Regions from separate parts of the Homo sapiens genome. Here region 1 is linked to region 2. Evidence: fine-mapped QTL for protein levels in blood plasma. A gene starts in region 2. The other region holds a variant in brackets. All regions are shown on one strand. Distances are between the middles of the regions.

Region 1 (8,327 bases), 11 kb before region 2:
CCTGTGTTACGGTGACACCTTGAGAATGGGCTACTTCCCCTCCTAGCAACCCGCAACACCATCCCAGACCTCAGGAGCCAGGTTTGGGCCAGTGCTGTCTCCTGTCGCTCTTACTTTCATCCTTGTCATTCTCTACCCCCTGGTTTTCCTGGTATTTAAAGTCCAGGTAGAGAAGATTTTGACTGGAGGTGGTTAGGTGAGGCTCTCCCCCCACCTCAACCCCCTGCCATTAGTTCACTGGGAGCCTCCCCCTTTCCTCCGCAAGGAGCAAGTTACTACTTCATTTCCTCTTTTCCCAATTTCTGGACAAGACCAAGGCAATTTGACCAACATTTATGGGGCATCAACTCTGAGAGTGCTGAAGGGGCATTTGCCCTCAAAGAGCTTGCAGTCTAGGGACGTAGACACAAGCAATTGCACATAGGCAACTCGTGTTGTGTGCTATTATAACAGTTACATGTGCAACACTGCCTACGAAGGGACTCATTGTTACTAGGCATGAGGTACCAGGAAAGAAGTAGTGTTCATATGAGCCTTAAGAAATCAGTACAATGTCCTCGGGAGGACCAGAGGAAGGACACCCCAGGTGGAAGGAACAGCAGAAATAAAGGCACAGTGGCATGTGTGGGTGTGGGGTGTTGGAGTGTCATAGAATCTGATGAGGTTGGGATCCATGGGGGTAACAGGTGGGAAAACAGTTTACTCTGTTTAAGGTGAACTTATTGCCTGGTGTTTTGTGCTCAGAGCAAATACCCTCTTCAGGAGCAGATACAAAAAGCCGGCATCTTCTCCAGCAGCTCTTAGTAAAATACAAGCCCAGGCCCTTCAGACCCGGATTAGGCAAAGACTATGTCTGTTTTCCAAATACTTGTTAGTACACAAAAGGCACATGAACTTGTAGTTTGTCTGCATGGCAAACCTTTCTTCACTTTGCTCAGTTTTTATTTTTTTGAGACAAGTCTCATTCTGTCACCCAGGCTGGAATGCAGTGGCACAATACCAGCTCACTGCAGCCTCCACCTCCCAGGCTCAAGCCATCCTCCCACTTCGGCCTCCTGAATAGCTGGAACTACAGGTGCACATCATCATGCCTGGCTAATTTTTAAATTTTTTGTAGAGATGGGGTCTCACTCTATTGCTCAGGCTGGTCTTGAACTCCTGGGCTCAAGTGATTTGCCCACCTTGGCCTCCCAAAATGCTGGGATTACAGGAGTGAGCCACCACACCCGGCCTGCTCAGCTTTTAAATTCAACACTCTGCCTACTCTTTTCAAAACTAAAAGTACCATTACCTTAGCTGTAGAACCTAACTCTCTCGAAATGTACCAGAGAAAATCTAATTAATACTCTCATTTTCTGAATGTTCCCCCCTAAAAACAACAAAAACCCCACTAGGAGTGGAATTTGAGGCCTCCCCAACCACCTACCAAAAAAGGAGGGTGAAATGAAAGGAAGAAGAAAAACTCAGCATTCTTTCCTCTGACAAAGAGTAAAACGACAAGGAATATCGGCCTGAATTCTCTTCCCAAGAAGAAAGAAAGCACACCAACGCAGGCATTTGTCTTCTGTCCATGGTGCTGAAGTTTATTCACTTTCAAACCACTTTCAGTAACAGGTGAGGTTCTACCTTAAAATTTAATGCATGGGGTGGGAGAGGCGAGGAAGTCACCATCAAACCACTTTATCTACAGTTAGCATAAGATGTGAGAAGTGTTGACAGGAAGCTGCAGCTTAGATGGGATGATCACAACTCCATGGCAACAAGATGACACAAATGCAGCAGAGACCCCAGGGGACAGGAGCCTCTTGCAGTCTGTCCCTAGGCCCAGCCCTGCTTGTCCTCCCTGGCTGTTATCTTCAGTACTGCAAAGAGAACACAGACATATCTGGCTTGGTGACCTGGCTGTCCTGGAAAAGTCAGCTTCATGTATGAGTGTGCCCATCCTCTGAACTTGATTACTGACCACCTGCTTCCCACCGGCCCCCACCCCAGCCTGATGACCCTCTGAGCTTCATGAATTGATAAGCAAGTTACTCATCAGAGTAAATTTCACTTAAGCCCTTCAGGATCTTGCAATTCTGGGGAGGAATATGAACTGCTAATCAGCCATGCAAAGATAACTTGGCTCTATGAATATTTTAATTTCCCAGTGCTAGTGGCAGTTGCTTTTTTTTTTTTTTTTTTTGAGACGGAGTCTTGCTCTGTCGCCCAGGCTGGAGTGCAGTGGTGCCATCTCTGCTCACTGCAAGCTCCGCCTCCCGGGTTCACGCCATTCTCCTGCCTCAGCCTCCGGAGTAGCTAGGACTTACAGGCGCCTGCCACCACGCCTGGCTAATTTTTTGTATTTTTAGTAGAGACGGGGTTTCACCGTGTTAGCCAGGATGGTCTCCATCTCCTGACCTCGTGATCCACCCGCCTTGGCCTCCCAAAGCGCTGGGATTACAGGCGTGAGCCACCGTGCCTGGCCTTTTTTTTTTTTTTTTGAGACAGTCTCGCTCTATCACCTAGGCTGGACTGCAGTGGCGTGATCTCTGCTCACTGCAACCTCTGCCTCCTGGGTTCAAGTGATTCTCCTGCCTCAGCCTCCCAAGTAGCTGAGAGTACAGGTGCCCGCCACCACACCCAGCTAATTTTTGTATTTTTAGTAGAGCTGGGGTTTCACCATGTTGGCCAGGATAGTCTTGATCTCTTGACCTCATGATCCGCCTGCCTCGGCCTCCCAAAGTGCTGGGATTACAGGCGTGAGCCACTGTGCCCAGCCCCCCCCCCTTTTTTTTTTAAGCATTTTCTCAGCAGACTAGCTAAGGACAATAGATGGCATGTCCTGACACCCATGGGGCACTCTGGGTGTTGGGGCAGAAACTTGAGAGGGAATGAGCTTCTGCATTGGTCCCTTTCCTGCTGAAGGTGTCTCCCAGTAGTGTCCATCCCATCCCATTTCCATCCCCAGTTCCTCTTACCCGGAAGCTGTTACAGCCCAGTCCGCTCTGGGCTCCAATCCTGTCCATCCTGCCCCCGAAGCAGCTGGATCTCCGCAGGCTCCGAGGGGCAGTGAGCAGCGCCCTCAGCTTGCTTTTTAGGAGGGCAGATCGATCAGAGGAGTCCCAGGGGCCCCGCCCGAGGGCACCTCCATCTCTCTGGGCTGGGCTGACTTCCCCGGTCCAGGGAGGCACCTCAGGGAGGGGGCTGAGAGCAGCCCCCGCTTCTTCATTCGGCTCACTGAGCACTTGTGGGGGCACGACCTCATCTTCTAAAGGCATCTTTTCTTCCAAATGGTCCAGCAAATTCTTTAGAAAAGGAAAATACAGGGAAAGGGATAAACCTCACTGACTTGGAGGAAATCAAGAGGAGTGAGCACAGCATCAGAAAGCCCCCTGGCCCCAGACTGCACCCGCTTTCCTGGCCCTACCTTGAAATCCATCAGGTCTGCGTTGGACACGGCATTGTACATGGGATTAGCTCTGGTCTGACCTAGGAGCTGGAATGCCAGTAAAAGGAGGAAGCTCACGGTGGTGGTGGAGAAGGAGCTCATGCTGGCGTCGTCAAGGAGCAATCCACTGCTTGCTGCTCTGTCTCTCCCCTCTGGTTCCTCTCTGGTTCCCCTCTCTTGGCCTACGTCTGTCCCTGTCTCCCAGCTGCCCAGTGCCGCCTCTTTTTATAGCCCCCCAGCTCTCCAAGCACGCAGGAGAGACAGAACCCTCCCCATTCTGTCACTTGCAGTGATAAAGCTGCCAAGTGAGAAGCCAGCAGGAGATGCCCTTTTAAAGTTATCATCCCGCAGGGCTTGTCACAGCCCCTCTCTGCCTTGGGCAGCCCCAACAGCCCCCCAGACCCTCAGCTGCAAGAGCCGCATTCTTACTGATTTGACTCAAGAGGCTCCCACTTCAAAGGTGTGAGAAGAGTAAAAAAGAGTCCTTGGTTATCTCACCGCCGTGC[C/G]TCAGGATTCTTTCTCCTCGACGCTGGTACCCGTGCGGGGAAACAGAGGGTGACGCTTGGCTGGTGCCCAGCTCCCCTGGTTTGTTTGTGGCTCAGCTGTCAGGGCCTCCAAATAAGGGTGGAGAGGAGGAAATGGCAGGCAGCCAGCAGCCCGAGACAAATGGATCCAGATGCTCAAGCTGGCCTCACACCTGCCTCATCCGCCACGTGGGCAGACCTCTGGCCTCAGACAGGGCTGCCTTCACCCCTGGCAGTCCCTCTCCATGGTCAGGCGAAAGGAAGTTATTTTTTAGTATATAAAGTCAGCTGAGAACCAAATGTGATGAAGCTCCCAGGAATCCAACCCCCAAATAGAAATAGCAAGAAAAGGCGGGGGAGCACAAGCATCCTCTCTCCAAAGCTCCTCCTCTTCCATGTCCCCCGCGACCCTCCTCCAGCATGCTGCGGGGACAGGCTTAGAGGACGCAGCCAATTTCATTTCTTCCGTTGCTGTTTATAGATGCTCAGACTCTTCGTGTCTGAAGTTTGTTAACATCCCCCTGCCCTTCCTGGGCTTGTGCCCGTGGCAACTTGACCGATGGAGGAAGGGAGGTGGGGGTGAAGGAGGTATAGTCAGTTTCCCTCAATGCCTTCTACATCCTTCCCTGAGGACGTGGCAAGTGGCAAGTGACCGAGCCACCAAGGTCACAATTTCCCTGGCCCCCAAAAGGGAAATAACAGGCAGCAAGTCTGTCTATGTTTAATGAATGGCCTGTTTGCTAAGCACTGAACTCAGTGTTAGCCATTACCATTCAATGCAACGTATACTGGGGGAAAACTCTAAATTTGAAGGGCTGAGAGACCAGTACTGTAGCCCAAAACAAACCAGTTGCATACCTCTTCGCAGCCTTACTTTCCTTGTGTGTAAAATGAGAAAGAATGTTAAAAACCGGCCGGGTGCAGTGGCTCACACGTATAATCCCAGCACTTTGGGAGGCTAAGGTGGGTGGATCACCTGAGGCCAGGAGTTTGAGACCAGCCCTACCAACATGGCAAAACTCTGTCTCTACTAAAAATATAAAAATTAGCTGGGTGTGGTGGCATGTGCCTGTAATCCCCGCTACTAGGGAGGCTGAGGTAAAAGAATTGCTTGACCTTGGGAGGCGGAGGTTGTAGTGAACCAAGATCGCACCACTGCACTCTAGCCTGGGCAACAGAGTGGGACTCGGTCTCAAAAAATAAATAAATAAATGAATGAATAAAGTAGAAATCTTCCCTGCCTACCTTGCAGGATTGTTGTGGAGCCCAAGTGAGCTGAGAACGTGTCAACACATAACAAGTGTGCAGTGCTGAGTCCCTGCAAGATGGCCATCATAGTTGTCTTTATTGGTTGCTTGTAGCATGCCTAGCACTGTGCTGAGAACTTTATGGAAATGATTTTATTTTGATCACCATCCCCAGGTGGTAGATAGCATTGTCCTTGCTTACAAGGGAACAGAACTGAGCCCGAGAGGCTATGCCACTTGCCCAAGGCCACTAGGTGCCTAAGTGGCGGAACCAGGACTGGATCCCCAGGTCTGACGCTGATGTCTGTATCCTAGCCTATTTCACGTAGAGAGCTGCCACCTTACCTCTTAGCTGCATTCCCCAATTAAACCCCCATTCCCCATCTTTCAGATGCCCCAAGGGAGCTCCTTCACCTTCCCCATGCCCCTGGGGCTGTAGCTTTTTTGTGCACTTACCAAGTCTGTGTGTGTTGGCTGCTCTCCTGATCTATTTCTACACCGAATGTGTTTTAATCCACTCCTTAGAAGCTCAGAAAATGTGTGTTGAGTGACCAGCTCTGTCCTGGCTGGCCAGATCTGTCCCCAGGTGTGCTGACCTCATGACTGACCAGGTGAACAGGACGTTGTGCAGCCATAAGGTTGGAAATCAGGGCAGCAAGTGACTAGAGGTCACAAGAGGTATCCAGGGTGATATTATTCTAAGATAAGATAAAAGGGACCCTCTTTGGCAAGCCTTGGGGTTTGTCTGTAGGTGGGGATCTAATATTTCATGGGGTGGTTAGAAGCAGCCTGTAGGAGTGAGAGAGAAGAAAAGTAACAGGCACAGAAAGCCAGGCCCACCTCCATCCCCACCTCTTCCACGGCTGAAAAATCAAAAGCCTTTTATTTCCTTATCACTGGAAAGAAGTCATCTTAGTCATACAACGGGTGGAGCACTGCAAACGGGTGGGAGAATCCAGAATCCGGGTGTTGCCAGATTCCAGCCCAGAGTTTGGCTTCACGATTCTCTGGGGGTATGCCTTGGGCTGCTGCAGGGAGCCCCAGAGTGTGCAGTGTCACCCGCGTGCAGAGCTGGCACGAAATCCCCAACACATTCGTGGCATGATTCTGCGGGACCCAGATGGTCTAAAGCAGAAGCCCCAGTTGGGAAAAATTGGTTCATACTTAGGGATGATCGTTGCTGACTTTGAAAATGATGTTTTGTTTCTTTGGTTTAATATGGAGGTCACTAAGGGCTGAAGACTGGGGACAGTTTCCCTAGAAAACAAAGCCCAAGGCAAAAGGTCACTCGCTAAAGTTTTGTGGGGGTTCCTATTCAAAGGAAGCAAGAGTGAGGCGGAGTGAGAGGCTGTTTTAGTTAACTACTGCCGGGTAACAAGTCACCCCAGACTGGGCGTGGTGACTCACGCCTGTCATTCCAACACTTTGGGAGGATCATTTGAACCCAGGAGTTCAAGACCACCCTGGGCAACATGGCAAAAACCCATTTGTACTAAAAATACAAAAAATTAGCTGGGTGCAGTGGTGCGTGCCTGTCATCCCAGCTACCCTGGACACTGAGGTGGGAGAATCACCACAGCCCAAGAAGTTGAGGCTGCCGTGAGCCATGACCAAGCCACTGCACTCCAGCCTGGGTGACAGAGTGAGAACCTGTCTCAAAAAGAACAAAAGCCAGGCATGGTGGCTCACGCCTGTAATACTAGCCCTTTGGGAGGCTGAGGCAGGAAGATCTCTTGAGCTCAGGAGTTCCAGACAAGACTGAGCAACATAAGGAACCCTGTTTTTAATAAATAAACAAACAAAAAACAAAACAAAAACCAAGTCACCCCAAACCTTAGCAACTTCACACAATGCACATCTATTATCTCATCACCTCTGTGCTCTGTGGATCAGGGATCTGGCCCTGCTTGGCCTGGGGCCCCTGGGCAATGAAGGCGTTGGCTGCGGCTGCAGTCATCTCAAGGCTTGGCTGGGGGAGGATAGGCTTTCAGGCTCACTCCTGCAGCTGTTGGCAGAAGCCACAGGTTCTCGCTGGCTGGTGGCTGGTGGAAACATCAGTTTCTTGCCACGTGGGTCTCTCCATGGAGACGCAACTGTCTTCTATTAGGTCAGGCGAGAAAGAGAAGTTACGGAAGAAGCCACAGTCTCTTTGTTACCTAATCTCAGAAGTGACATCCCATTCTTCATGTTGTACTGTTCTGTGTCCCTTAGAAGTGAGTCTCTGGGTCTCACTCACACTCTAAGGGAGGGGGTTACAGAGGGTATGAAGACCAGGAGGTTGGGGATCTCTGGGGGCCTTCTGAAAGCACTGCCCACACAAATAGAGAAGGAAGGAAAGCAAATGTAAGGTGACATTGGCTGAGTGCAGTGGCTCATGCCTGTAATCCCAGCACTTTGGGAGGCTGAGGTGGGTGGATCACTTGAGGTCAGGAGCTCGAGACCAGCCTGACCAACATGGTGAAACCCCGTCTCTACTAAAAATACAAAAATTAGCCAGGCATGGTGGTGTGCACCTGTAGTCCCAGCTACTCGGGAGGCTGAGGCAGGAGAATCATGAAGGGCAGGGCTCTGCAGGAAGGTTGACTTATTTGGGAGTGTCTTAGTTTAAGTTCTCTTGAACCGGAGACAGATATTCCAGTATTAGTGGCTGATCTTGGAGACAAACCCAGGAAATGTCAGTGGAGAGTGGGGAAGTGATACAGAAAAAGTAGAAGTCAGTGACCACCTCTGGCAGTAGGTGCTTAATCCTCCTCCCACAGAGAACTCCAAACAGGTTCTCTGTTTGGAGAACAGAGACACATGCCACCTATGACTCAAGGGAGCTGGGTGTTTGTTTTATTTTATTTTATTTTATTTTATTTTTGAAACAGAGTCTTGCTCTGTCACCCAGGCTGGAGTGAAGTGGTAATTTCAGCCTTGACTTCCCGGCTCAGTGATCCTCCCATTTCAGCCTCCCGAGTAGCTGGACTACAGATGTTCACCACCATACCCGGCTAATTTTTTTTCTTTTATTTTTAGTAGAGACGAGGTCTCTCTTTGTTGCCCAGGCCGGTCTCGAACATCTGAACTCAATTTATCCTCCCACCTCAGCCTCCCAAAGTGCTGGGATTACAAGTGTAAGCTGCT
Region 2 (8,327 bases):
CTCTGTGCCTTGGTTTCCCCATCTGTAAAAAGAGGGATGTAAGAGTTTTAACTCCAGGCCAGGAGCAGTGGCTCAAGCCTGTAATCCCAGCACTTTGGGAGGCCGAGGCGGGTGGATCACTTGAGGCCAGGAGTTCGAGACCAGCCTGGCCAACATGATGAAACCCCATCTCTACAAAAAATACAAAAATTAGCTGAGGGTGGTGGTGCATGTCTGTACTCCCAGCTACTCAGGAGGTTGAGGCGAGAGAATCGCTTGAACCCGGGAGTCAGAGGTTGCAGTGAGCCGAGATTGCACCGCTGCACTTCAACCTGGATGACAGAGTGAGACCTGTCTCAAAAAAAAAAAAAAAAAGAAATTTAACTCCTTCATTGTTGTGAGGTCTATATGACTGTGCCTGGTACATGAATGAGGCCTTTATGAATATTAACTATTCTAATTACTCATTGCTCTCCCCGGTTTGGAAGCATTAGACATGACTCACAGTTGGTGGAAAAATAAGCTGCCCCTAAAACCTCTTTTTTATTTCTTTTATTCTCTTTTTTTGTTCGTTTGTTTTTTGAGATGGGGTCTCCCTCTGTCACCCAAGCTGGAGTACAGTGGCACAATCACAGCTCACTGCAGCCTCCCCGCTTCCAGGCTTAAGCGATCCTCCCACCTCAGCCTCCTGAGTAGCTGGGACCACAGGCATGCACCACTACACCCAGATAATTTTTTTCATTTTCATTTCTTGAAGATATGGGGGTCCCATTATGTTGCCCAGGTTGGTCTTGAACTCCTGGGCTCAAGCCGTCCTTCTGCCTCGGCCTTTCAAAGTGCTGGGATTACAGTGTGAGCCACTGTCCCTGGCCTAAAACCTCGTTTTTGAACAATTTTTTTTTTTTGAGATTATGGAGTTTCACTCTTGTTACCCAGGCTGGAATGCAGTGGTGCAATCTTAGCTCACTGCAACCTCCACCTCTCAGATTCAAGCGATTCCCCTGCCTCAGCCTCCTGAATAGCTGGAATTACAGGCACACACCACCATGCCCGGCTAATTTTTGTATTTTTAGTAGAAAGGGGATTTCACCATGTTGGCCAGGCTGGTCTCGAACTCCTGACCTCAGGTGATCCTCTGGCCTCGGCCTTCCAAAGTGCTGGGATTACAGGTGTGAGCCACCGCACCCAGTCTAAACAATCTTAATTGATGTCATTAGATATCCATAAATCCTCAGATGCACACTGGGTGAAAATGATAAATAACACAAAGTTCCACCCTCTAGGTCACTCTCATTCAAAGAAACATCTGATGAGAACATCAGAAAAGACTTGAGAGTGAAGTTCAAGGGCAGGAGTGTGGGGCTCAAGAGTCAGAGAGCACAGGCTCAAGAGTCACCTGGATCTCCGCTCAGTTCCCACACCAGCGCTTAGTCGCTGTGTGCTCTTGGATAGGACGCTTGGTTTTCCAGGGTCTCAGTTTTCCCGGGTCTCAGTTTTCCCATTTGGAAAATGGACATAATAATAGTGGACCTCATGGTGCCTTACCCCTCAGCTGAGCTGGAATTATAAATGGCATTGTGAGAAAGCGAATGACATGAGGCCCTTCCCAGGAATCTGAAAGGAGAGGAACTCAGCACTGCGGAGGCCTGGATTGCAGGGTGTGTGGGAAGGGGACCCATAGGAGAGACAGCCTCCCCACTGGTTAAGGCAAAGAGAAGAGATGATGCAGCCCCAGGGGAGGGGCACCCTGGAAAGCTGGGCTGATTGCCAGACCCCTCTCACTTTGTGGGTTGGAGTTTTGAAGGCTCCTTTGCAGGATGACCCCAGGAATTGGAGTTTCAAAGCTGATATTTGGGGCAGGATGGAGGGCTCACCCCGGTATGGGAATGTAGATGAGCCACACCCACACACACTGCCCCCAGTCGTTGACATTTTAGCTGAGACCTGAAAGCAATAATCCCCAGGGAGAGTGCTTTAATGGTGGAATTCCAGGCAGAGCAAGGACGAGTGGAGAAAACGGCTGGATACGTGCCCTCAGGTTGCACACGTATCCTGCCCTGCTTTGAAAAGCAGTTTCTCCCAAGTGCCTCAAGTGCTTGAGATATTCAATAACATTTCAGAGCATTAAAAACTCTGAAAGAAAAGAAAGCCTGCTACCTCTGAGGCCACATCCTCATCCCACCATGAAGATGCCTTGAGATCACAGGGCTTTGTGGTTTTAGTTGGGTTGGTTTCTTTGAAATGAGGGATTATTTTTAATGCGCCAAGACAAATCAGTTTCAAAAGATAAAGCTTATAATGTTGACTTTATTTCACCGTGGAAATTTTGTGCTCAAAGGTAAGAAACCATCTTATATAAAACAATCAAATAAATACATAAATACATTAAAAAAATGAGTCACTTCAAAGGCGGCCACAGGGTTGAGGAAAAAGCCCCTTGTGGAATCAGAAGCAGGTGTCTGCAGCCAGGACTTCCTCTTAATGCCGCCTCAGCACTGTCAGGGAAAGAGAGAGGGTGATGATGGTTAGGGTGGGAGATGGAGGCAGGGGCTGAGCTTACCTCATCGTGTGCCACCCACCACCCTGTTAGTCATCAGACGTTTGAGGCTTAATGCAACTCTCTGAGCCTCAGTTTCCTCATCTGTAAATTGGGGATTATCATTGCTCTGGTGATCCTGCTCTCTGCCTTTGAGACTATAGACAGTTTAGAGGAAACCAGGAGGAAATGTTTGGTTCTCTTTCTGCACCACTGGGGGGCTGCCAAATGATAAACAGACCCCCAAAGGAGATTCTGCCCCTTTGATAAGAAGTAGGAGGTGGGGAGAAGGTATTGTGGGCATGGTAATGAAATAAGCCCACATTTACTAATTCCACAAAGGCACCCCTTGGCCCTGAAGGCTGTTAACAAGAGGAAGCGATGTCCAGGTGACCTTTTCTCAAAGAGTGTGGTTCCCAGAGACAACAAACCCCAAAGTGACTCTAACAGTGTCACACACTGGAATGGGGGAAGGCGGCCGGGGTGGCAGGGGGTGCTTACCTTTGCAGCCCAGGCCACTGGAGGAGCTGATCCGGTCCATCTTCCTCCCAAAGCAGCCAGACCCTTGCACCATCTTGGGGCTTCGTGGTGCCCGCAGGGTGTAGAGGACCATTTTGCGGTGCCCACGGATGCCCTCGGTGGCTACCTCCCGGGACTTCCAGACACCTGTGGGACGGGGGCTCTCCTGGAGGGGCTCCAGGGATGTCTGCTCCACCTGCAGCTCCGACAGTTTGCCCTGCAAATGGTTGCGCTGCTCCTGCAATGAATGGGGGCGTCCAAGCCTCAGGGACCCACCCCTGGGCTCACCAGCCCTTCATGGCACCCAAGTGAACCGACTGCCTTGGGTACAGGGTCAGGGCACCCAGTCTCTCCATTTTCTGATTCCTTTATCACTAATTCCAAAGGAAAGATGAGGGCCTCTTGGGACAGCAGGTGAGGACCCTTTCATTGCTGCTGTCCAATCCCCCTGAGCTGCCCTCCGCTCTCACCTGTAACCCGGACGTTTCCAAGTCCGAGGCTGAACCGGGGCTGCCCAGCGGGTGGGAACGACCTCCCAGGAAAGCCAGATGCAAGAAGAGCAGGAGCAGGAGCGCCCGGGAAGGTGCTGTCTGGGGATCCATGTCTCTGGAGGGACTGCGGAGGCTGCTGCTGCTGCTTCTGCTGCTGCTGCTGCTGCTGCGATGCGTCCGGGTTTGCTTCCCACCTGCCCTCAGCCTGCGGGGTGCTCCTCCTGGCTCCTCGGGACACCGTGGCCTTTTATCCTGGAGCTGAGTGTCGGGCCTGCCCTGCCATGCAGGGTTATCTCTGATTTATCAGCCACATTCCGGGCCTCTGAGATCAGGGCCCGGGAATGAGCCCCTCCGCGCCTGCGACGTGGGAGGTGGAGACCGGGCAGAGCCGACCTTGTATAGAAATGGGCCGGGTCGGGCCGGGGGGCAGGAACGCGCTGGAGACACAGACAAGTCCCCGTCTCCCGCTTCTTCCTTTCCTGCAAATGTCCAGGTGTCCTAGGTTGGCGCTTTCTTCCTGCCTCCCCACCCCACCGTTGCTGGAAAAGGCAGGGAGGACCCCGGCTTTCCGAGGACCGACGTGAGCGCGGGGAGCACGGGGTGACTCACAGCGAAAACAGCCCCGGCCAAGACCCCGCCACCCGCGGCGCCTCTCCCCTCCCCGCGCGAGTTCCCTGGCCCGCACGTAGCGCAGCACCTGCTCGCCGCTGTGCACCCTGCCTGCCTGCGGGTCCTCGGGGGCGCCCTGGCCGCTGTCCGTGGTGCTGATCACCCCGAGGGAACTTGGAGCAAACTCTCAAGAGCTGCTCTCTTCAACGGGATTTTCAGGCCAGAAAGACCTGCGTGGAGCAAGGACAAGAGACCTCCGAGACCTTTCCCTATGCTCTCACAATCCGCCATCTTATAGTCCTTACAGCAACGGGATGCTGATTCCCCAGTGGCAATTCATTAAAAGCCTGGGTATGACCAGGAACTTCTGGAATGCTGACCCTTCTTTCACTCCTTAAAGGGAAGAGCAGATTTCGCTGGAATTTTGAGAGATAGGGTCCAGTGATGACGAAGTCACCCAAGAATGCCTTATATGTGTGTCCTCCACGTGTCAACACCTCCTCTCCCCCACCAAGCCAACACAGGATGGAAAACAAAAGGATAGGCTGGGCATGGTGGTTCACGCCTGTAATCCCAGCACTTTGAGAGGCCGAGGCGGTCGGATCACGAGGTCAGGAGATCGAGACCACGGTGAAACCCCGTCTCTACTAAAATTACCAAAAATTAGCTGGGCATGGTGGCAGGCGCCTGTAGTCCCAGCTACTCGGGAGGCTGAGGAAGGAGAATCACTTGAACCCAGGAGGTGGAGGTTGCAGTGAGCTGAGATCACGCCACTGCACTCCAGCCTGGTTGACAGAGAGCGAAAAAAGAAAGAAAGAAAGAAGGAAAGAAAGAAAGAAAGAAAGAAAGAAAACAAAAGGATGGCTGGAATGATGGTTATCTATTTGCTGGGATACCAGAGATATGGGGATTTCCCCTCTCCCAGTGCCTCCTTCATCTGACCACCCATGATCTAATTATCATTAGCAGGTGGCCTGGTGATTAGAAGTGAGACTTTGGAGAGAAATGCCCCTGAGAAGAGTCATAGCAGCTTAAATACCCCCCTAAAGCATATATGACTGATGTCACTCCCCTTCCAGAGAATTGGTGTCAACAAGCAGCAGGCTGGAGGAGTGGAGCTGTCTATGAGGGGAGAAGAGTTACAGCAGAGAAGGGCAGCAATAAGAAACTGGGACCTCTAAGCAGATCTTGCCTAAAAAATAGCATCTGCCCCTGAGGTGAGAAAAGCACGGTTATTATTCCTCACTTCAGAGGAGGAAATGGTGTTCATGAATTAATCTACTTTCCAAAAGTCACACAATTGACACATGATAAATCCTGGATTCTAACCAGTCTGATTAGTCTAGCCAGCAGTCTGATTCCAGACCTGAAGCTCATAATCACTGCCAGGGTGATCACAAGGTGTTTCTACAAAAAGCAAGCTTAGGTGAATCCCGTGTCATCTATGAAGGCTCTGGGAGCTGTGCTGTGGGGGATGTGCAATTCTAGTGGTGACTGTGTGTGCAGGAGAAAGAATGGGAAGTGGCTCAGATGAGCATTTTGCAGATGAAATATAAATGGAGGTGGGTGGGTAAGGGCTGTGTAAAGACACCAGTGCTGGAAATGTTCTGGGGGGCTGGGGTAGTTTTGTGTGTGTGTGTGTGTGTGTGTGTGTGTGTGTGCGTGCACATGAGCATGCCACAGTAAGAGTATCAAAAGGCTAAGAGGAAGCTAAAGAGGTAAGAAAATTCAGCCAAGTGCAGAGGGGAGTCAGTGGGCGAGAGGCTGCTGAGGGTGCAGAAAGCCCCTCATGCTGAGTACCATGAGATAAAGGGTTCAGAGCAAGGCAGGATTCATCAACCAGCACCATCAAAAACTGACTCTGCATCTCGCCAGAGCCTCACTTTGCTCTTCGGCAAAATGGACAGTCCTTGCAAGGACTAAAAGGAAAAAAATAATATCTGCAAAAGCCCGTGGCACTGTATAAAGGGCCAAATAATTAGTAGTACATGAGAGTTGGTCTTTACACTGAAGGAGATTGTGATCTCACTGGGGAGACAAAGTGACCCCAAGTGAGACAATTAAGTGTCTAAGTGTCATACACTCTGACAGAGTTTCTATCTGTCCCCAGTGGAGGGGACTGTGGAAGAAGACTTGAGGAAGACACAGAACTAGACACATCCTCCAAGGCCTGCTGTCCAGGGAGGAGGATATGTTGTCAACTAACTCTCACACCAGATCAGCCCCATCAACATTTATCGAGGGCCTGTCATATGCTATGTGCTTTCCAAGTCTATTTAATGAAGCTAATCATAACACCTCTGTTGGAGCATTAATGTACAAGGATTAAATTTGATGATGTCTGTGGTAAGCTGAATAATAGTCCCCAAAAGATGTCCATATTCTAATCCCCAGAATCTGCGAATATACTACTTTACATGGTAAAAAGGACTTTGCAGGTGTGGTTAAGTTAAGGACCTCAAGGTGGAGAGATTCTCCTGGATTATTCAGGAAGGCTCAATGTCATCACAAGGGTCCTTATAAGAGGGAAGCCAGAGGATCAAGGTCAGAGGGACAAAATGTAAGGATGGGAACAGGTCAGAGAGGAGAGAAGAGACTACACTGCTGGCTTTGAAGATAGAGGAAGGGGCCATGAGCCAAGGAATGTAATCAGCCTCTAGAAGTTGGAAAGGGCAAAGAAATGGATTTTTCCCTAGAGCTTCCAGAAGGAATATGGGCCTGCCAATACCTTAGTTTTAGCCCAGTGAAACAGATTTCAGACTTCTGATGTCTGGAACTGTAAGAAAATAAAATCATGTTCTTTTAAGCCAACAAGCTTGTGAGACTTTGTTTCAGCAGCAATGGGAAATTAATAGAGTATATGTCAAATGCCAAGCATAGTGTCTCTCCCATAGTAAGCCCTCAGCAAATGTTGTTATGGTAGAAGTATTGGTTCCCCACCACCATCCAACTCTAAGTGCTTAATCTGGCCACACAGAAAGAAATAAGACCCTTAAGTCATTCAACAAACTTTCACCGAGACCCTGGGGTCACAGTAGCCCAGACCCAAGACTGAAATCACAGTCTGGGCTCAATTTCACATCAACTTCTTGCTACCTTTGTGTGTTGGGCAAGTTGCTTCCTCTCTCTCCTTGTTTTCTCATGGCTACCTCATAGGGTTGTTGTGAGCATAAAATGAGACTGTGCAGGTTAAAATCTAATATTTCTGCTGGAAGGTGGGGATACATAACGGACAAGAAAGTCCCTGCCATTGAGAAGCTTACAGTGCAGGGGGAAAGGTGGGCACAATCACAGGCTCCCCAGGCTGCCACAGTGAGTGACAGATACAGTGGCAGTGAGTCCTGGATGCTCTGTGAGCACAGCAGGAGTGCGCAGTCGAGAAGGGAGTTTGTTGGAGAAGGTGGGGCTGGGCTAAGGCTTTGAAGGATAAGAATGAGTTAGCCACAAGAAGGAAGATGGAAGATGGGGAGGGCACTCTGGGCAGAGCAGATGCACAAGCAGAGGCTAGAAGGGCTGGTTAATGGATCAGCTACCACCCCTATGCTCTCTGCAGAAGGAAGAAGCTGTGCAGAATACAAGGTTTGACTAGTCAGAGAGTAGGACTCCAGCTGCAAGATTTTTCTGTAGCTTCCCTCTGGCCTCAATCTCCAGTCTAGTCCTGGGCAGCCAAAGTGGATGGTATGAGAGCACTGGGCACCTGGGGGAAGCAAAGGAGGAAACAGAGGAGCACTGACCCAGGAGGCAGGAGGCAGGCTCGTCTCTGCCCGTGGCTGACTCACGGTGTGGCTCTGTTCCAGGGATTCTTTTTTTTTTTTTTTAATTTTTTTGAGATGCAGTCTTCCTCTTTCACCCAGGCTGGAATGCAGTGGTGCGATCTCAGCTCACTGCAACCTCCGCCTCCTGGGTTCAAGTGATTCTCCTGTCTCAGCCTCCTGAGTAGCTGGGACTAGAGGCACGTGCCACCACACCCAACTAATTTTTTATTTTTAGTAGAGATGGGGTTTCACCATGTTGGTCAGGCTGGTCTCGAACTCCTGACCTCAGGTGATCCGCCTGCCTCTGCCCCCCAAATTGCTGGGATTACAGATGTGAGTCACCGTGCCCGGCCTGTTCCGAAGATTCTGCTCGGTTTGCTTCTCTGTTCTAGGATGGTTTCCCTTTGTGTAGAGTGAAAGGATTAGACTAAGGTTTCT

Alleles and levels. Alleles are on the strand shown, and positions count from the first base shown. The strength of an association depends on the size of the effect and on how common the allele is.
In carriers of allele C in region 1, the plasma level of the protein whose gene starts at base 3,748 in region 2 tends to be lower than with G alone (weak association).

What was found. PIP is the chance, under the fine-mapping model, that this variant and not a neighbour inherited with it causes the effect. Protein levels are from antibody-based Olink assays in UK Biobank. Linkage for the fine-mapping came from a reference panel and not from the study's own genotypes, which makes the PIPs less certain.
Region 1: its variant is fine-mapped to the plasma level of the NPPB protein (UK Biobank, PIP above 0.99).

Annotation. Positions count from the first base shown.
Region 1 is chr1:11,844,153-11,852,479 of GRCh38, forward strand. It overlaps NPPA (natriuretic peptide A), which reads right to left and starts at 3,631. Exons shown (of 3, transcript NM_006172.4): 1 at 3,410-3,631; 2 at 2,961-3,287; 3 at 1,557-1,862. The coding sequence starts at 3,532. The coding sequence ends at 1,857. It also overlaps NPPA-AS1. RefSeq lists an enhancer at 2,667-4,457. The variant C/G (reference allele first, on the strand shown) is at 3,937.
Region 2 is chr1:11,855,198-11,863,524 of GRCh38, forward strand. NPPB (natriuretic peptide B) reads right to left here and starts at 3,748. Exons shown (of 3, transcript NM_002521.3): 1 at 3,505-3,748; 2 at 3,017-3,272; 3 at 2,267-2,474. The coding sequence starts at 3,636. The coding sequence ends at 2,458. RefSeq lists a silencer at 4,147-4,313.